Linked DNA regions of Homo sapiens: all the other regions are linked to region 2. The links come from fine-mapping of genetic effects on gene expression. A gene starts in region 2. Each other region holds a variant in brackets. All regions are shown on one strand. Distances are between the middles of the regions.

Region 1 (4,115 bases), 51 kb after region 2:
TAATTCCTTAACATTAACGAGTACCGGAACTACCACGTGGGAAGTGCAGCCCCCTCTCTCCGCCTCACGGATTCAGCTCGGAGGTGCAGGGGTTTGGTGGGGGGCGGTTAGGGAATGACAGCTGCCCCGTGGAGGACGCCCAGGGCTGGGTCACGAGCTGACAGGAGTCAGCCTTATTCTGTAAATCCTAGTTATCAGGATGCCGGTTTCGCGCCGTGCCCAGTCCCACTCAGCCTTCAGTCTTCCGGCCGGGACCCCGCTGGGCGCTAAGGGGGGAGCGGCGCCACCGCGAGGCCGGAGAGGGGGCTGCGAGGGGCGCCCGGCCGGCCTGCGAACGTGGTGGGAGCCAGGCGGGGCACACGGCCTCCCCTTCCCATGAGGGACTCTCCCCGCCCCCCGGGCTCAGCGCTGGGAGTGGTGAGATGGATGGCGGGGTGATCCGACGCCGCCAGCCCACCGCGTCCCCAAGAGCCGGGGCCTCCGGCTCAGCTAAACGCCCCAGAGTCACGCATGCGCCCCATAAACGTCTGCTGAGTGAACGAAAGCTCCCCATCCACAAGGGGACAGCTCGGCGCTCCCACGCCATGTCCAGGTCGCATTCGACCAGCAGGACTTCCCTTAACGCGCTGCCGGAGTCCCCAAGATCGCGCCCCTGCCAGGAGCGGAACTGTTTATTTCCGTCCGGCTGAAGAGGCGGGGTGGGGATGGCACAAGCCGATTGGTTACGCAAAATGTGGAACCAATTCAGGCCTATGATCCAGGAGACTACAAGTTCCAGAATGCATCCTTCCTCCAGCATAGGGACAGGCCGAGGCTGCGGGGGCGTTGCCTGCTGGGAATTGTAGTCTTCATCTTGTTTGTTGCGCAGGAGGAACTGGAAGGAGGGAGTAAACTATTACCACGTGACGTTCGGGTCAGGTGTTTGGGCCAGCCTCCGCACTCGAGCTTTGATTGGCTGACTCTAATAAGAAGACGCCACTAGGGGCGGGGCGAAGAGGGGCGCAAGCTCATTGCGTTTTGAGTCTCGGGACCCCTGTTGGAGAGACTATGGCGCTCAACAAGAATCACTCGGAGGGCGGCGGAGTGATCGTCAATAACACCGAGAGGTGAAAACACTGCGGAAGGATCCTGGAGGACCAAAGTTCGGGTGTCGAGGAAGTGGGCGGTGGGTGGTGGGTGGTGGGGAATAAGCCCCTGAAGAGGGAGCACTGATGGAGTGAGGTTGGTGGGGAACGGCTGGGGGCGGGGTTGGAGGAAGGTGGGTGGGCCGTGGGGGAGAGCCCGGGAGGTTGTGATCAGCTGGGAGGCGGGGGTGGGACGTCTGCATGGGGACCTGGTATGGGGCCCCCGGTGGGGCCTAGGGGTGATTCTTGAACCCCTTCCCAGACTTGTGATTTCAGTAGCTGGGAGGAGCCCCAAACAAAAATAATTGTCACTTATTGGATGTCTACAACGTTACTACGTGTCAGGCTCTGCGCCTTTTCTACCTTATTTAATAAATTCTGTGCAGTATAATCTACTACTGTCCACATTTCACAGGTAGGGAAAGTGGAGGGCAGAAAGGTTAAGTAACTTGCCCGAGATCGCAACTGTGTAAGTAACAGAGGTGGTAATTCCAGGAAAGGAGTCTTGACTCCAAAGTTAATAGGATTAACCACCAGCATACAGGCTTCCAGTATGTTCCAGAACTGTTCAGGTTCCCGGTAAAAAACTGAGGTCCCAGAGGTGAAATTAAACAGATGACGTTTGTCAGGTGTCTAACAGTTCCTGGCACTGTGTGGGTCCGTAGTCATTCCCTTGCCTCTCTCTTGAATGCCTGTTGGTTTGGGTCACCTCGGAAGGCAGAGCTCTCCTAATTCAAGGTTCTTTCCACTCCATCCTCCCCACCCCTTGCTCATTGCATCCTGTCTCTCCTCCAGTCTCTGCCAAGAGAAGCCTTAAATGGCCTCTGTCTCCTTTTGTTCCTTGGGTATTGAAAATCAGACCAGCCAGCCCTGGGTTGAACTATGCCGACCCTGAATTGCCTCTTGAAGGCAGAAGGAGCTTAGGAGGCACCTGAGTCCCCAAAGGAGACATCGTGGAGTCAGAGCCCTGTACCCAGCTAAGGCCAGCATCCAGCTGCCCTGTGACTTGGGAATGTTTGATGAGTCAGAGGAAAATGCCTAGAGTGACCCAGCATGCTCACTTTCCCTCTATCTTACCCGCTCAGAGTTTCATGGGCCCAGCCTGTTGCTGGTAATTCCTTCTTTTCTCTGAGCAGTACTTCTCTTCTCTTTTTTTTTTTTTTTTTTTTTTTTTTTTAGATGGAGGCTTGCTCTGTCGCCCAGGCTGGAGTGCAGTGGCACGATCTCAGCTCACTGCAACCTCCGCCTCCTGGGTTCAAGCGATTATCCTGCCTCAGCCTCCCCAGTAGTTGGCATTACAGGCACCCGCCACTACACCCAGCTAATTTTTTGTATTTTTAGTAGACATAGGGTTTCACCATGTTGGGCAGGCTGGTCTCGAACTCCTGACCTCGTGATCCACCCTCCTCGGCCTCCCAAAGTATTGGGATTACAGGAGTGAG[C/T]CACCGCGCCCAGCCATTTTCCTTTGCTTATACCAGTTGTTTCCCACTTACCCTTCCCCAGTCAGAGAAAGTTGTGATATATGGGGGGAGGCAGAAGACAAACAGAACCGTGTGAACCTTTTTATCATGTAATCAGAGACACCTCACACTGTTTTGTTGCATCTCTGTGTGTGAGTCAGTTCCCAGGCCTGGCCAGCTTTTCGTGCCATTTGGCAACATCTCTGGGGACTGTTTTTCTTTCTGTCTCTGTGGAACTTTCTGAGACAAGAATGTATCTATCCTGCTCGGCCTTCTACCTGGCTTAGGGCTCAGTCCTGCTAAGTAAGGTGTGCCTTCAGCCTGCTGTTTTAGAAAGTGCTTCAGCCTGCTGTCTGAAAAAGTTGTATCTATAACAATTGAAGTGTTAAGTCCAGTGTCCAAAATTTGATAATTAGGCTGGGCATGGTGGCTCACGCCTGTAATCCCAGCACTTTGGGAGGCTGAGGTGGGTGGATCACTTGAGGTCAGGAGTTTGAAACCCGCCTGACCAACATGGTAAAACCTCGTCTCTACTAAACACAAAAAATTAGCCAGGCGTGGTGGCGCATGCCTGTAATCCCAGCTACTTGGAAGGCTGAGACAGGAGAATCGCTTGAACGCAGGAGGTGGAGGTTGCAGTGAGCTGAGATCACGCTATGTTGCACTGCAGCCTGGGCAACAAGAGTGAAACTCCGTCTCAAAAAAATAAAAAATTATAATTAAAATAGTGAACGTTACTCTTCAAGTCGTGAACTCCTTTGACAATGATGAAAGCTGTGGACTCTCCTCCCAGAAAAATGCACATATGACATACGTGATCATCTCAAGGGCTTCATGGACTTTCCTGCAAACCCCGCTTAAGAACCCAGGTTTAAAAGAACCCCGAAGGACGTCCTATTGTGATCTGTACAGTCATCTCTTAGACATGTTTATATTTTAGGCTTGAAAAACAAACCAGCAAAAACAGAACATCTATCACAAGGACTTAAAAGAAAATAGAAGAGTTGGCCGGGCGCAGTGGCTCACGCCTGTAATCCCTGCACTTTGGGAGGCCGAGGCAGGTGGATCACGAAGTCAGGAGATCGAGACCATCCTGGCTAACACGGTGAAACCCCGTCTCTACTAAAAATACAAAAAATTAGCCAGTCGTGGTGGCGGGCGCCTGTAGTCCCAGCTACTTGGGAGACTGAGGCAGGAGAATGGCATGAACCCAGGAGGCGGAGCTTGCAGTGAGCCGAGATCACGCCACTGCACGCCAGCCTGGGTGACAGAGTGAGACTCCGTCTCAAAAAAAAAAAAAAAAAATAAAGAAAATAGAAGAGTTAAGCCAGATTATCTAACTTGCTTGAGGGATGATGGCCTCTTCAGAGCCCTGTAGCTCTGCTACCATGTTGATCATTTGGGGGCTTTATAAGCGGGGTTTGGGAAATTTTACAGAACCCCCAACCTGCTCATTTCTTCCATGGCTATATTAATGGGTTTTTTTGTTGGTTTTTAGTTTTTTTGTAGAGATGAGGTCTCACCATGTTGC
Region 2 (4,107 bases):
TAGTGAGACCCCCATATATTTTTTTAAAATGGTAGAGCCACTGCTTCTAGTTTCAAGATATTCATCGTTATTTGCTTCAAGTTGGTACACGTGGGAATCCACGTGAAGCCTCTCTCAAACTGTTAATATCCAAGCAAGCGCCAATCAGGGTTCTAGGACAGCAAGAGGACAAGAATGGAGGAATGCACCGCCACCTGGGTGGCCAGCAGCTTCCACGCCAACTGCCAAGGCCCCATACATCTTCATCTGGAGAGGGCTGGGAGGGTCGTGGGGTAGAGCGGGTGGGTTTAGAGGCTGAAGAAAATGATTCAGAAACAAAAGGACAAGGTGGCCGGGTGCAGTGGCTCACACCTGTAATCCCAGCACTTTGGGAGGCCGAGGTGGGTGGGTCACCTGAGGTCAGTAGTTTGAGACCAGCTTGGCCAATATGGTGAAACCAAGTCTCTACTAAAAATACAAAAAATTAGCCAGGCGTGGTGGTGCATGCCTGTAATCCCAGCTACTCGGGAGGCTGAGGCAGGAGAATCACTTGAACCTGGGAGGCGGAAGTTGCAGTGAGTCGAGGTCGTGCCCCTACACTCCAGCCTGGGCGACAGAAACTCCATCTCAAAAAAAAAAAAAAAAAGGACAAGGTAAAACAGCCACGATGTAAACACACAATCCAGTTATGCTCCTGTACTGCATAACTGCAGTATGGAATGTCACAATAAGCAACTCCTTACGAGCAGGACTGGGTGTGACTGCCCCACGTATTCCCCTCCACACTTAGCATGTAGCAGGTGCACACTGCTGGGTGGATTAGAAATGACTGTGAAAGGTTTAGCTGTTTGGCTGCTGTTTATGAAAACCAGTGGAAGGTGTGGCCACTTCCTGCTGGATGGAGAGACCCTCATTCCATTCTCATTCCATCTCAAAGTGATTGTGAGGGTCAAGCTTCTGCTGGTGCCAGAGCCACTGGCCTGGTCACCACCAGCCCTGGCCTGGGATGTCAGAGCAGGCTTCCTGGAGAGACCCCTCTCCTGGGGCTGGGTGGTGGCCAGGCCAAGGTGGGGCAGTGAGGAGGTGAGAGGCAGAAGACACAGCGTATACAAAGGCCCCGTGGCCTGGAGGCAAAGTGCGATGGAAAAGTCTTGCCTTTTAGGGCAGGAGGGCCAGGGCTGGGGCAAAGGAGGGTCCCAGATTCCCCAGGCTACCAAGTTTTGCCATGGTAGAACTGGATCACAAGGGCAAGCCTGAGTCCTGCCAGAAACATTCACATCTGCACTTAACCAGGTCACTTCTGCCTTTGTGTGGATAATGAGAAGTTGGAGATAGTTGAGCTAACACACAAACCACTGCGAGCGCTTTCCAGAGGGTAATCTTTTCATCCTGACAGCTGTCAGGTAAGCACTAGTGTTAACCTGCTTTTTCCCAAATGAGGAAACCACAAGGAAGACAGTAAGGTCACGATCTGGTTTTTTTTTGGGGGGGGGGAGGGGCATTTTGAGACGGTGTCTCACTCTGGCACCGAGGTGGTGGCGCAATCTCGTCTCACTGCAGCTTCTGCCTCCCGGGTTCAAGTTAATTCTTGTGCCATAGCCTCCTGAGTAGCTGGGATTACAGGCGCCTGCCACCACGCCCGGCTAATTTTTGTATCATTAGTAGAGATACAAAAATTTTTGTATCTTTAGGGTTTTGCCATGTTCGTAGGGCTGGTCTCAAACTAATTACCTCAGATGATCCGCCCACCTCGGCCTCCCAAAGTGCTGGGATTACAGGTATGAGCCACCGCGCCCAGCCACAATCTGGGTTTTTATTACTATTATTTTATTATTATTATTATTATTGAAATAGAGTTTTCACTTTTGTCGCCCATGCTGGAGTGCAGTGGCGCGATCTCGGCTCACTGCAGCCTCCGCCTCTGCCTCCCAGGTTCAAGCGAGTCTCCTCCCTCAGCCTCCCGAGTAGCTGGGATTACAGGCGTATGCCACGCCCGGCTAATTTTTGTATTTTGAGTAGAGACGGGTTTTCACCGTGTTGGCCAGGATGGTCTCGATCTCCTGACTTCGTGATCCACCCGCCTTGGCCTCCCAAAGTGCTGGGATTCCCGGCGTGAGCCACCGCGCCCAGCCCTCAATCTGGGTTTTAAACCCAAGCAGAGTCCGGAATCGGAGCTCGCACCCCTTCTCCCAACCAGGCCTGCGTCCCTGGGGAAATCAGGACGCAGCGTCCAGGGGTTGGAGGAGGGCCCCGGCGGCCGACCCCGGTCTGTGCCGCCCCCTGGTGGCCAGCCATGGGCGAGCATATGACTGCTCTCGGCTCCGCCCCGCCGTCCAACGGGCACTTCCGGAGCCGGGCGTCTACAGACCGCGGCCACCTTCCACCTGCGCCCGAGGCAGACGGTGCAGGGGCCTCCGGGACAGGCGTCTGAGGCCTGCTCCGCAGCGCGGGCCCGGGGGCGGGCCTAGGGGCGGGGCCTGCTGTGGTGCGCTCAGGCACCGCGCTGGCCACCTGTGCCCGGGTCCTAGTGGCGGCCGCAGTGTCGCAGGCCGGAGGGAAGATGGCGGCGCCCTGGTGGCGAGCCGCGCTGTGCGAGTGTCGGAGATGGCGGGGCTTCAGCACCTCGGGTGAGGGGTGGGCAGCTCTGCGGGGGGGGGGGGGGGGGCTGTCGCCCGAGCTGTGGGGCGCCGGCCTTACGTCTTCTCTCTGCCCGCAGCCGTCCTGGGCCGCCGGACACCCCCGCTGGGGCCGATGCCCAACAGTGACATCGACTTGAGCAACCTGGAGCGGCTGGAGAAGTACCGGAGCTTCGACCGCTACCGGCGCCGAGCAGAGCAGGAGGCGCAGGCCCCGCACTGGTGGCGGACCTACCGAGAGTATTTCGGGGAGAAGACAGGTGCGGGGCGACTGGAGCAGGGGCTGCAGCCACCGCCCGGGGAACTCGGGACCCGCCGGCGTTTTCCCCGGGCGCTGGGCGAGCCTTGCCGGCGCCCTTGTGGATGCTGGGGACGCTGGGAGGGCCTGCCTGCAGACCTGTGTGCGCTATCGGCAGCTTAATCACCCCAGGATTTTTCACACCTTCTGCACCTCATTCTTGGAAAATTCGCTCCCCCTACTATTAGAGTTCCAGCTCCTAAAATATTTGCTCCTAAAATCTTGACCACCTGACTTTCCGGATTGGGATGCCGTTCTGTGCGCCTCAAATACTCTGTAGGTAACTCTGGCCACACTGCATTCTGACTGTGCGCTGCCTCTCCCCAGATTGTAAGCGCCCTGTTGACAGGGATCCTGCTTGTCTTGCCCTCCATTGGATCCTTGCACCCGAACAGTGCAAGGATGTACATGTGCAATACTTTGCTGAATGAAATTAAAGGCCTGGGCAGGGTGACTCAAAAAAGAACCCAACCTGGCCGGGCGCGGTGGCTCACGCCTGTAATCCCAGCACTTTGGGAGGCCTAGGCGGGCGGATCACCTGAGGTCGGGAGTTCGAGACCAGCCTGACCAACATGGAGAAACCCCGTGTCTGCTAAAAATACAAAATTAACTGGGCGTGGTGTCGCATGCCTGTAATCCCAGCTACTCGGGAGGCCTCTGAGGCAGGAGAATCGCTTGAACCCAGGAGGCAGAGGTTGCGGTGAGCCGAGATCGCGCCATTGCACACCAGCCTGGGCAACAAGAGCGAAACTCCGTCTCAAAAAGAAAAAAAAAAAAAGACCCCAACCTTTAAGGAACTTACAATTTATGGAGTATATGCTTTTCTTTTCTTTTCTTTTCTTTAGCATTTATAGAGGCAGTTTTGTGGTGGTTAAAGGCACAAGCGTGGAATCTAAATAGCCCGATTTAAATCCTAGCTCAGCCTCTCGGATAATGTCCTTGAGCTTGTTTCAACTGTAAAATAAAATAATTGTGTCTTTGCTACAAAATTGCTGTGAGGATTAAAAGAGGCAATTCATTGGCATTTTTGCCTAATGCCATCTCTGATGAGGGCTCAGTATGTTTTCGTTATTATTATTTTGTTTTGTTTTGTTTTAAGGCAGAGGCTCGCTCTGTTGCCCAGGCTGGAGTGCAGTGGTGCGATGACTCACTGCAACCTCTGCCTCCTGGGTTCAAGCGATTTTCCTGCTTCTG
Region 3 (4,108 bases), 76 kb after region 2:
TCCCCAGCCTCACCTGGGGTGGGAGGCGGAGGGGGAGGTTGGGGGTGGGAGGAGCTGGGGTGGGGCTGGGTCACTGAGGCCGCCCCTTTCTCAAGAGCGTCTTTGCTTCCTCCTCCGCCACCGCCCTGCCGTGCTGTGTCCGCATCCCTCCGGCCCCGCCCCAGCCTCCTGACCCTGCTCTGGACCCACACACTCACAGTGCTGGTGGAGGCGGCCGCCTCCCAGCGCAGCTCATCCCTGGCTTCCAACAGGCTGAAGATTGCCCTGCAGGTAACAGAACCGGTCACAGCAATGATAACCCTGGTGGGAGGGTGCCTGGGGTCACCTCTGATATCTCCCCCAGAACCTGGAGATCTGCTTCCACGCTGAGGGCTGTGGCCTGCCACCCAAGGCCCTGCACACTGCCACCTTCCAGGTAGGGGCTTTGGGTGAGCTTCCCCGTAGGAAGTCTGGGGAGCCTGCCTTTTGGCACTCACCTATGTCCAGGGTCGGCTACATAATTTATGGGGCCCAGTACAAAATGAAAAACTGGGCCCCTTATTCAAAAGTTATTACAAATTTTAGAACGGTGACGACAGAACCTGAAACCAAGCCTGGGTCCTCCTAAGCACAGGGGCCCTGTGTGCCCGCATGGGGGGTGGGGTCGGGGAAGCACGCCTGTGAAGCCAGCCCTGTCTGTGCCTCTCCTGCTGTCTGTCTGGCCTGAGGGTGGCCCCAGCCCGTTGTCCCATGACCCAATACTTTCCATTTCAAACGGACATGTTACCCTTGACAGTGAGCTCCTGGAGGGCAGGCCTGGGCTGTGGTTGGGCGTGCAGTCCAGGTGGATCCTCAGCTGTATGTGTTCCCAGGCTCTGCAGAGGGACCTGGAGCTGCAGGCGGCCTCCAGCCGGGAACTCATCCGGAAGTACTTCTGCAGCCGAATCCAGCAGCAGGTGAGGCCCCTCCCTCGCACTGCGCCCTCTGCAGGCCCTGGAGCACCCCGCTCCCGCTGTGACCCTGCTGACCCTGCCCCTGCTCCCCACCCCAGGCAGAAACCACCTCTGAGGAGCTGGGGGCTGTGACAGTCAAGGCCTCCTACCGCGCCTCTGAGCAGAAGCTGCGTGTGGAGCTGCTCAGCGCCTCCAGCCTGCTGCCCCTGGACTCCAATGGTGAGTGGAGGCTGCCTTTGGCCACTCTCCATGGTCCCGTCCTGGCCCTCCTGTCTCAGCGACCCTGGGGGCTTCGCTCACCCTGCAGGAGCTCTGGGTGCATTTCCTCCAGTTACCAGGAGGGGTCAGTGCCGCTGAGCAGAGCATAGCTGCTGGGGTGGGGTGCCTGGGAGACCCTCAGCTGACGCACACTCCCCGGCCACTTACCAGGCTCCAGCGACCCCTTTGTCCAGCTGACCTTGGAGCCCAGGCATGAGTTCCCTGAGCTGGCCGCCCGGGAGACCCAGAAGCACAAGAAGGACCTTCACCCATTGTTTGATGAGACCTTTGAATTGTGAGTGGGTCCCGTTCTTCTCCCAGTCCCTCCCCTCATCTCTCCCCACTGGGCTCCCTCAGGCCTGCTCCTCCTGGCTGGGGCCAAGGGGCTCCCCTGAGATGGCCACATTTGGGCCCAAGGGATGGGGCATCTGGGACAAGAGTTTGCAGCTGGATGTGGTGGCTCACACCTGTCATCACAGCACTTTGGGAGGCCGAGGCAGGCGGATCACTTGAGGTCAGGAGTTCAAGACCAGCCTGGCCAACAGTCTCTACTAAAAATACAAAATTAGCCGGGCATGATGGTGGGTACCTGTACT[C/G]TCAGCTACTCGGGAGGCTGAGGCAGGAGAATTGCTTAACCCAGGAGGCAGAGGCTGCTGAGATGGTGCCACTGCACTCCAGCCTGGGCGACAGAGTGAGACTCCATCTCAAAAAAAAAAAAAAAAAAAAAGAGGGCCAGGCGTGGTGGCTCATGCCTGTAATCTCAGCACTTTGGGAGGCCAAGGCGGGCGGATCACGAGGTCAGGAGATCAAGACCATCCTGGCTAACATGGTGAAACCCCGTCTCTACTAAAAACAAAAAATTAGCTGGGTGTGGTGGGACACGCCTGCAGTCCCAGCTACTCGGGAGGCTGAGGCAGGAGAACCACTTGAACCCGGGAGGCGGAGGTTGTAGTGAGCCAAGATGGCGCCACTGCACTCCAGCCTAGGTGACAGAGCAAGACTCCGTCTCAGAAAAAAAAGTTTGCTTCCCTTGGGGGAAGGGGTGGACTCCCAGGTGTTTAACTTAGGGACTTCCAGGGAAGGGTCCTGTCTCTGAGGTTCTCAGTAACCTGCTCCTAGTTCCTCAGCACAGGTGAACAGGGAACACAGGACCGCTGGTTTAAAGCATCAGCCCACGGTCAGAGCAGGCATTGCACCACATGGCTGAGAGGTGCCAGGCTGAGAGCTGGCTTTGCAGTCCAAACCCTGGCTGGTTCCCAACACCAAGTGGGTGAACCCATGTGCCGAGGCTGGGGTGGCTGTGCTGGGGCTGGCAGCAGAGCCCTGACTCTCCCCGCAGCCTGGTGCCTGCTGAGCCGTGCCGCAAGGCTGGGGCATGCCTCCTGCTCACCGTGCTGGACTACGACACGCTGGGGGCCGACGACCTGGAAGGCGAGGCCTTCCTGCCGCTGCGTGAGGTGCCCGGGCTGAGTGGCTCTGAGGAGCCTGGTGAGGTGCCTCAGACCCGCCTGCCCCTCACGTACCCCGCACCCAACGGTAGGCCTGAGCCCAGGGCAGGGTGGTGCGGGGACGGGAGCCTGTAAAGCTCAGGCAGGGGCCCCAGAGAGGTGATGCCAGGGTCGGAGAACAGCTTCCCTGGAGACGGGAGCCAGTGGGACAGCCACGGCCCATCTCTCGGTCTAATCAAGAGACCAGTGAACTTTAAGCTAAGTGTAACGTGACTCTCCTTGCATGGGGAAGTCACCAAGAAGTTTAACTGGGGAGAAGGGCCTGGATCTCACTCGGCGGGGCCGCTTCCCTGCAGAGCATTTTTGATACCAGCAACGGTCTGATGCTTGTGCACTTATTATGAGCAAGTGCTAAGCACTTTATGCATTCCAGCCAACGAAGCAGATATTAGCACTCTTTTACAGATGAGTAAACCGAGGCATGAAAAGGTTAACTTGCTAGCTTTAGGTTCTCGTATAAAAAGGTAATAGTCAAACCTCAGGCACATCTCAGCCCCTCGCTGCAGTCAGGACAGTGTCCCAGCAGCACTCTGTCTGTTACGCGACCCGACCGGATGCGTCTGTCAGACCACCTCCTGGGCTGGGCTGGCGCGGGTCTGTCACTTGTTTCCTTCCAGGTTGTTGGGGAGATGGAGCAGTGTTGTGTACCCCCCCACACACTCTTCTCTGCCACCACCAGGCACTGCCCTCTCCCCTGGCATCTGACCCCCAAACCCCTCTCTCCGCAGGGGACCCAATCCTGCAGCTGCTGGAGGGCCGGAAGGGTGACCGAGAAGCCCAGGTCTTTGTGAGGCTGCGGCGGCACCGGGCCAAGCAGGCCTCCCAGCATGCCTTGCGGCCGGCACCGTAGCCGTAGAGGTTTGCGGTGGGGCTGGGTCCCCGGTGGGGACTTGCAAGGGCTTTCCTGTAGGGTCTGGGGCTTCCCCGCCACATCGCGGCCCTCCAGCCTGGCCTAACACTTGGGGAGCCCCAGCATGCGGAGTGCCCAGAGTGCAGACCTCCCCTGCCTCCCATGGTGATGGGGGCTCAGCAGCGACATCTCTACTCCCGCCTCCCTGCCTCCAGCCCTGGCTGCAATGTCTCTACCACATCCCAGCACCAGGGGGAGCAAACCCTGCCCCTGCCCGCCTCTCAGAAAAGCTGCTGTGGTGGGCAGGGGATTGGGCCATCTGTCTCCTGGCCCTGGCCCATCTGCCTCCTGGCCTTCCTGTTCCAGCCACTGGGGTGGGGGCCAGGTTCACTGGGACCAGGGCTACAGGCACAGAGTCTCCTGGAAAAGGGAGAGGGGACCCTGCCAAAGATGAGGCTCCAGCTGCCCTGGGGGGAGGGTGGTGGCCATTACTAGAGGGGGCCTGGGTCCTCTCCCCAGGGGCTGCCAGCATCCAGGCCAGGAAGCCTGGAGCCAAGAAC
Region 4 (4,115 bases), 100 kb after region 2:
ACTATAGCCTGCATTTGGAACATGTGTGTAGGAATGGAGAGCTTGCCTTTGTTTTCACTTTTGCCAGCACAGGAAGTATACAAGGCAGTTTAACATGACATATGATTTAAACATTTGCTGTCATCAACATGACTTCCCTGAAGCATAGGGTTTGCATAAGCACTGTTTTACTTTGGAGTTTTAGGTTGAATTCATTAACAAACATTACCTAGTCTGCAGCAAAAGCTAATTTCCAAAGCCATTCAGCATTCAATAGTGGTTGGGAGCGATTCTCCTCATTCAGAAAATTTTCAATCTCAGCCCTGAGCTCAAAAAGTTGAAAGAAAACTACCACTGCTAAGCCATCAAACTACTGCGCGGCAGGGCACATCAGAATATTCAGCTTCTATTTCTGACAAAAACTTATGGAACTGATGATGATTCACAAAACCAAGTAAAATTACTGATGCTAAGAGTTCAATAACACATGATAAATTAAGATATTTTCTGCAAAGTACCTGCTGATGAATAACACAATGAATAAACCACCTTACATTTTCACAAGTTTTGTAAATTTGTCCAATTATTCTTCCGCTGTACACATATTTTTACCACCACCAGCTGTAAAAGATACTAGCAGATTACACTTTAGGTTGTACTGAATTAGTGTTTTCTTAGCTGTGGACTCACCGACAGCCAGGAAAAACCACATGAAATCGGCCTTCTTTTTGATGATGTCTGGCTCTGTCACCAGGCTGAAATGCAGTGGCGTGATCTAGGCTCACTGCAACCTCCGCCTCCCGGGTTCAAGTGATTCTTCTGCCTCAGGCTCCCAAGTAGCTGGGACTACAGGTGCCTGCCACAATGCCCAGCTAAATTTTTTTGTATTTTTTAGTAGAGACGGGGTTTCACCGTGTTGGGAGATCGATGGTCTTGATCTCCTGACCTCATGATGTGCCCGCCTTGGCCTCCCAAAGTGCTGGGATTACAGGTGTGAGCCACCGCGTCCGGCCTGTAATTTTTGTATTTTTAGTAGAGACGAGGTTTCACCATGTTGGCCAGGGTGGTCTCAATCTCCTGACCTCGTGATCCGCCCACCTTGGCCTCTCAAAGTGCTGGGATTACAGGTGTGAGCCACCGCGTCCGGCCTGTAATTTTTGTATTTTTAGTAGAGACGAGGTTTCACCATGTTGGCCAGGGTGGTCTCAATCTCCTGACCTCGTGATCCGCCCACCTTGGCCTCTCAAAGTGCTGGGATTACAGGTGTGGGCCATGGTGCCCGGCCTTCTTTTTTAATTGACTACTGACATTGCTCCTAATGTCCTCAACATTTTGAGACACTGTTCCTGCTGAAAAGCTAACACTCTCAAACAAAAATGTGTTTTATCTGGACACACTTCTCCAGCTGCTGCAGTCAAACACAATTTAATTAACTCAACATCAGTAAATGGCTTTCCTTGCCTAGCTAACAAATGAGCCACTCAGAAACCTGCTTCAGTTGTAGCCTGCAACTGAAACTACAAAAATGTAGTTTTAATTCTTGTGAAGAAATTCTGCTGTAAGGAAATATTCCTAGCTGCATGCAGTGGCTCATCCCCGTAATCCCAGCAACACAGGAGGCGGAGGTGGGAGGATCACCTGAGCCTAGGAGTTTGAGGGCAACATAGCAAGACCCCATCACTAAAACAGTTTTAAAACATTTTTTTAAAAAACTAAGCCAGGCATGCACCTGTAGTCCCAGCTACTTGGGAGGCTGAAGTGAAAGGATCACTAAACCCAAGAGTTTGAGGTTGCAGTGAGCTAC[G/A]GTTGCACCACTGCATGCCAGCCTGGGTGACAGAGCGAGACCCTGTCTCAAAAAAAAAAAAAAAAAAAAAAAAAAAAAAAAAAGACATCTGTGCTGAAAAAATCCATCAGCATTATCAGACAAAGCACTTATCACAAGATTCCCAGAAAAGCAAGCAATGGTCAGAAAAAAATTTTTAGGTCAGGCGCAGTGGCTCACTCCTGTAATCCCAGCCCTTTGGGAGGCCAAGGCGGGCAAATCACTTAGGGTCAGGAGTTTGACGCCAGCCTGGCCAACATGGAGAATCCCATCTCTACTAAAAATACAAAAAATTACCCAGGCGTGGTGGCTCACACCTATAATCCCAACTACTTGGGTGGCTGAGGCACAAGAATCACTTGAACCAGGGAAGTTGAGGTTGCAATGAGCTGAGCGCACCACTGTACTCCAGCCTGGGCATCAGAGCAAGACTCTGTCTCCAAAAAAAAAAAAAAGGCTGGGGGGAGCCGGGTGCAGTGGCTCACACCTGTAATCCCAACACTTTGCGAGGCTGAGACGGGTGGATCACAAGGTCAGTAGTTCAAGACCAACCTGGCCAATATGGTGAAACCCCGTCTCTACTAAAAATACAAATTAGCCAGGTGTGGTGGCGGGCGCCTGTAGTCCCAGCTACTCAGGAGGCTGAGGCAGGAGAATCGCTTGAGCCCAGGAGGTGGAGGCTGCAATGAGCAGAGATCATGCCACTTCACTCCAGCCTGGGCGACAGAGTGATCTCAAAAAAAAAAGGAAAAATAAATTTTAAAGGAATATTTCCTTCTTTATTTAAATAAAGAGACAGGGTCTCACTCCGTTACCAGGCTGGAGTGCAGTAGTGTAATCACAGCTCATTGCAATCTTGACTCCTGGGCTCAAGGTGTCCTCCTGCCTCGGTCTCCCAAAGTGCTGGGATTACAAGCATAAGCCACCATGCCCAGTCACAGCTATCTTTATTATTGGGTGCTTTGCCACCAAATGTGTTAACAAATAATCCACATGCCACCGAGCCTTAAAAGTAAAATACTTGAAGTGCATTTTTCTCTTCCTCTCTTCTTTTGACATAAGAGGTATGCACTGGTGATGAAGAACGTATAAAACATGGTATGCTGGCTGGGTGCAGTGGCTCACACCGGTAATCCCAGCACTTTGGGAGGTCGAGGCGGGCGGATCATGAGGTCAGGAGATCGAGACCATCCTGGCTAACATGGTGAAACCCCGTCTCTACTAAAAATACAAAAAATTAGCCGGGCGTGGTGGCTGGCGCCTGTAGTCCCAGCTACTCAGGAGGCTGAGGCAGGAGAATGGTATGAACCCGGGAGACAGAGCTTGCAGTGAGCCCAGATCACGCCACTGCACTCCAGCCTGGGCGACAGAGTGACACTCCGTCTCAAAAAAAACAAAAAATGTGGTATGCTGACACGTGCAGCAATGAGAAGCAATGAGCATCACATATAGTCAGTCTCCTGTTGCAACTACTTGAGTCTGTAGTTGAAGTGCACAAGCAGCCAAGACAACAGAGAAACGAATGAGTGCAGGTTCAAAGGAAGCGTTATTTTATTTATTTTTTATTTTTTGAGACAGAGTCTCGCTCTGTCACCCAGGCTGGAGTGCAGTGGCGCGATCTCAGCTCACTGCAAGCTCTGCCTCCTGGGTTCATGCCATTCTCCTGCCTCAGCCTCCCGAGTAGCTGGGATTACAGGCGCCCGCCACCATGCCCAGCTAATTTTTTTATTTTTAGGAGAGGCGGGGTTTCACTTTATTAGCCAGGATGGTCTCAATCTCCTGACCTCATGATCCGCCCGCCTCGGCCTCCCAAAGTGCTGGGATTACAGGCATGAGCCACCGCGCCCAGCCCAAAGGAAGCTTTATTTAGGGACTCTTTGAAATTCATACAATCGTCACATCACGAAATATCTTTTCAACCATTGAAAAAATGTGAAGGGAGGGCACAGTGGCTCATGCCTGTAATCCCAGCACTCTGAGAGGCCAAGGCGGGTGGATCGCTTGAGCTCAGGAATTGGAGACCAGCCTGGGCAATGTGGCAAAACGCTGTCTCTACCAAAAAAATACAAGAATTAGCCGGGTGTGGTGGTGCACACCTATAGTCCCAGCTACTCAGGAGGCTGAGGCAGGAGGATTCTTTGAGCCTGGGAGGTCGAGACTGCAGTGAGCCAAGATTGTGCCACTGCACTCCAGCCAGGAGGATAGACTGAGACCTGTCTCAAAAGAAAGTGAAAACAATTCTTACCTTGTGGGCCTTAAAAAAGCAGGCAGCAGGCTGGATTTGGCATGCAAGCCGGTTTGCTGACCTCTGCTC
Region 5 (4,115 bases), 930 kb after region 2:
CTTGAACCCAGGAAGCAGAGGTTGCAGTGAGCCGAGATTGTGCCATTGCACTCCAGCCTGGGCGACAGACTCCATCTCAAAAAAAAAAAAAAAAAAAAAAAAAAAGATAAATCTGAGAAAGAGTTGGCCAAAATGTGTCATTCCTATTGACTAAAGTGGGTGATCAACTGGCTCCTCCTCCTGTAATCACCCAAGCTGGAAGCCCAGGAGTTATTGTCATTCATTTGTCCAATAAATATTTATGATGTGTTAGACATGGTGCTGAGTGCTGAGGATACAGAGAACAAAACGGACTCAGTCCTTGCTCACGGGAAGCTTGAATTTCAGTAGAAGAGACAGATGTCAAACAATTAAAAAGACAAAAATAGGCTGGACACGATGGCCCATGCCTGTAATCCCAGCACTTTGGGAGGCCGAGGCGGGCAGATCACGAGGTCAGGAGATCCAGACCATCCTGGCTAACACGGTGAAACCCCGTCTCTACTAAAAATACAAAAAAAATTAGCCGGGCATGGTGGCGGGCGCCTGTAGTCCCAGCTACTCGGGAAGCTGAGGCAGGAGAATGGTGTGAACCCGGGAGGCGGAGCTTGCAGTGAGCCGAGATGGCGCCACTGGACTCCAGCCTGGGCGACAGAGCGAGACTCTGTCTCAAAAAAAAAAAAAAAAGCAAAAATATTTACAATAGTGTTAAGAACATGGGGGACTGAAGTAACAATGGTGGAGCTGGGAAATCTCTCAGGGAAAGAGACTTTTTTTTTTTTTTTTCGAGGCAGAGTCTCACTCTGTCACCAAGGCTGGAGTGCAGTGACACGATCTTGGCTCACTGCAAGCTCCGCATCCCAGGTTCAAGTGATTCTCCTGCCTCAGCCTCCTAAGTAGCTGAATGATCTCGCCCCAACCCGAGTAGCTGGGATTACAGGCACCTGCCACCGCAACCGGCTAATTTTTGTATTTTTAGTTGAGATGGGTTTCACCATCTTGGCCAGGCTGGTCTTGAACTCCTGACCTCGTGATCCAACCCCCACCCCCCTCGGGCTCCCAAAGTGCTGGGATTACAGGCGTGGGCCACTGCGCCCGGCCGGAAAGAGACTTTTAAGATAAGACCCTGGAGGACGAAAAGGGGACAGTCACATGAGGAGTGGGAGGAGGGATGTCCCAGGCAGAAGGAACAAACTATACAAAGATCCTGGGCAGAAAGACTTAGAGTGGTTGAGAAAAATGAAGGAAGACCCACGTGGGTGGAACCCAGGGACTGAAGGGAGGAGAAGCAGGCTCAGACTTTGCGGGGCCTTGGAGGTTGCTCCTGACGCAGTGCTCAGAGGAGTCTTCATGGGGGAGTGATGTGAGCTCCATGTTCAAATTACTTGGGCTGTTCTGCAGAGAGTAGGTGGGAGAGGGGATGAGTGGAGGCTGCTACAGGTGGGAGGTTATGGGACCCTGGCAAAGGTGAGGGCGGGGGAGATGAAGGGCCGTAGGATGATACAATATATATGTTTGATGGATAACACCATAGGACTTGGTGATGAATTGGTTGGGGTTGGTGGGGGGTTGGTAGCAGGAAGAGAGGCACCAAGGGTGACATGGGCCAGGCGTGGTGGCTCATGCCTGTAATACCAGAACTTTGGGAGGCTGAGGCACGCGGCAGATCACTTGAGGTCAGTAGTTCGAGACCAGCCTGGCCAACATGGCGAAACCTCGTCTTTGCTAAAAATACAAAAATTAGCGGGGTGTGGTG[G/T]TGCACACCTGTAGTCCCAGCTATTCGGGAGGCTGAGGCAGGAGAATCACTTGAACCCAGGAGGCGGAGGTTGCAGTGAGCTGAGATCGCGCCGCTGCGCTCCAGCTTGGGTGACAAGAGCAGAACTCCATCTCAAAAAATAAATAAAAATAAAAATAAAAATAAAAATAAAATATGGTACCAAATTCTCTGACACTCTTTCCATGGAGAGGTGGGGTAGAGGTCCTCTCCCTTGGAATCTGGTGACCTTGTGACTATTTTGACCAATAGAGTGTGGTGAAAGTGACTTTCTATGTTACTTCCCTCCCAGACTGGATGCTGAACAGATATGCAACTTCCCCCTTGTTCTCTTGAACACCCTCTTTCCTTTTCTTTCTCTCTCTCTCTTTTTTTTTTTTTCTTGAGACAGGGTCTCGCTCTGTCACCCAGGCTGAGTGCAGTGGTGAGATCATAGCTCATTGCATTCTCAACCTCTCAGGCTCAAGCGATCCTCCTGCCTCAGCCTTCTGAGTAGCTGAGACTACAGGTAATTGCCACCACACCTGGCTAGTATTTTTTTCTTATTTTTTATAGAAATGGAGTCTTGTTATGTTGCCCAGGCTGGTCTCGAACTCCTGGGCTCAAGCGATCCTCCGGCCTTGGCCTTCCAAAGTGCTGGGATCACAGGTGTGAGCCACTGTGTCCACTTCCTATTTTCATATGCATCTTTTGGGTGTTCCCTCACAGAGCCCAGTGTCCTTGCTGAGAGAGGCCCAAGCCACATGGAGAGGTCACACGTTGGTGTGTCTGTCTTCAGCCCCAGCTGAACCCAGTCTTTGGGTCCTGCCAGCTCAGGCATCAGATGTATGAGTAAAGCCACCTGGTAATTTCAGCCCCCCAGCTGTTCCAAGTTAACCCCAGCACCAGCCATTCTGGTCTTCTCAGCTGAGACCGCAGACATTGTGAAGCACAGACCAGCCACCGCAGCTGAGTCCTGTCTGAATTCCTGACCCATGGAATTTGTGAACATAATAAAATGGTTATAGTTTTACACCAAGTTTGGTGGAAAGGTTGTTATGCAGCAATGGTACCTAGAACACATATGAGATAGAAAACCAAGTTCCAAGACTCCACCTTGTCAATACCACCTGCCTGCTTCCTCTCCATCTATCTGTGACTGCTTTGGTTGAGCCCTCATCAGCTCTCACCTCCCAGCTGGATTCCCCATGTTCAGGTCATTTCTCTCTCCTGCTGCAGCCAGGATGGCTTCATTAAGATCTAATGACATCTCATGACATCACTCCCCTGCTTCTCAGGCTCTTTGTTGCTCATGGAATAAGATTAATGCCTTTTATCAGGATGTATGCAGCCCTTTATGGTCTGCTCCTGGTCCACTTCAAGCGTATCTCCTGTCTCTCTACATTTCACTCAAATCAGGTGTCTGTCTTCCTCCCTCCCTCCTCTCTCTTTTTTTGATTTTTAAAAATATTATAATAGTCTGGGCGCGGTGGCTTACGCCTGTAATCCCAGCACTTTGGGAGGCCGAGGCGGGCGGATCACAAGGTCAGGAGATCGAGACCATCCTGGCTAACATGGTGAAACCCTGTTTCTACTAAAAAAAATACAAAAAATTAGCCGGGTGTGGTGGTGGGCGCCTGTAGTCCCAGCTACTCGGGAGGCTGAGGCAGAAGAATGGCATAAACTCGGGAGGCAGAGCTTGCAGTGAGCCAGGACAGCACCACTGCACTCCAGCCTGGGCGACAGAGAGAGACTCTGTCTCACACACACACAAAAAATTATAATAGAGGCCGGGGGTGGTGGCTCATGCCTATAATCCCATCTCTTTGGGAGGCCAAGGTGGGTGGATCACCTGAGGTCAGGAGTTGGAGACCAGCCTGGCCAGCAAGGTGAAACCCCATCTCTACTAAAAATACAAAAATTAGCCTGTTGTGGTGGCGCGTATCTGTAATCCCAGCTACTCAGGAGGTTGAGGCTGGAGAATCACTTGAACCTGGGAGGCAGAGGTTGCAGTGGGCCAAGATCACGCCACTGCACTCCAGCCTGGGTGACAGAGAGAGACTCTATCTCAAAATAAAAAATTAAATAAATAAATAAAATAAAAATATTATTATTTTTATATGCCCAGCTAAATTTTTGTATTTTTAGTAGAGACAGGGTTTCACCATGTTGGCCAGGCTGGTCTCAAACTTGGGACCTCAGGTGATCCACCTGCCTCAGCCTCCCAAAGTGCTGGGATTACAGGCGTGACCCACTGCTCTTGGCCTCAGTAAGTGTTTGTTGGATGATTGACGGTTGAACTCAGAAAAAGGGTGCCAGGGAGGGCCATGACAGCCATAGACCTGCGAGTCTTCCTTTTATGGTGGGCATAAAGGAGAACAGG

What was found. PIP is the estimated chance that this variant, and not a neighbour inherited with it, causes the effect.
Region 1: its variant is fine-mapped to the expression of MRPL38 in whole blood (TOPMed, PIP above 0.99).
Region 3: its variant is fine-mapped to the expression of MRPL38 in whole blood (TOPMed, PIP above 0.99).
Region 4: its variant is fine-mapped to the expression of MRPL38 in whole blood (TOPMed, PIP 0.97).
Region 5: its variant is fine-mapped to the expression of MRPL38 in cerebellar hemisphere (GTEx, PIP 0.98).

The regions. Positions count from the first base shown.
Region 1 is chr17:75,852,230-75,856,344 of GRCh38, reverse strand. It overlaps WBP2 (WW domain binding protein 2), which reads left to right and starts at 1,010. Exons shown (of 8, transcript NM_012478.4): 1 at 1,010-1,106. The coding sequence starts at 1,048. RefSeq lists enhancers at 1-186, 795-924 and a silencer at 255-424. The variant C/T (reference allele first, on the strand shown) is at 2,567.
Region 2 is chr17:75,903,308-75,907,414 of GRCh38, reverse strand. It overlaps MRPL38 (mitochondrial ribosomal protein L38), which reads left to right and starts at 2,531. Exons shown (of 9, transcript NM_032478.4): 1 at 2,531-2,606; 2 at 2,696-2,875. The coding sequence starts at 2,540. RefSeq lists silencers at 2,126-2,605, 2,616-2,665, 2,686-2,735.
Region 3 is chr17:75,827,405-75,831,512 of GRCh38, reverse strand. UNC13D (unc-13 homolog D) reads left to right here. Exons shown (of 32, transcript NM_199242.3): 26 at 165-270; 27 at 344-415; 28 at 852-935; 29 at 1,031-1,151; 30 at 1,362-1,485; 31 at 2,530-2,726; 32 at 3,427-4,108. The coding sequence ends at 3,548. Among named protein-coding and RNA genes, the nearest start is that of UNC13D, 15 kb to the left of the region's middle. RefSeq lists enhancers at 1-775, 811-1,105, 776-1,764. The variant C/G (reference allele first, on the strand shown) is at 1,787.
Region 4 is chr17:75,799,994-75,804,108 of GRCh38, reverse strand. The region is part of intron 1 of UNK (unk zinc finger); the gene reads right to left. Among named protein-coding and RNA genes, the nearest start is that of UNK, 17 kb to the right of the region's middle. The variant G/A (reference allele first, on the strand shown) is at 1,784.
Region 5 is chr17:74,976,915-74,981,029 of GRCh38, reverse strand. No RefSeq gene overlaps it. Among named protein-coding and RNA genes, the nearest start is that of HID1, 6.2 kb to the right of the region's middle. The variant G/T (reference allele first, on the strand shown) is at 1,736.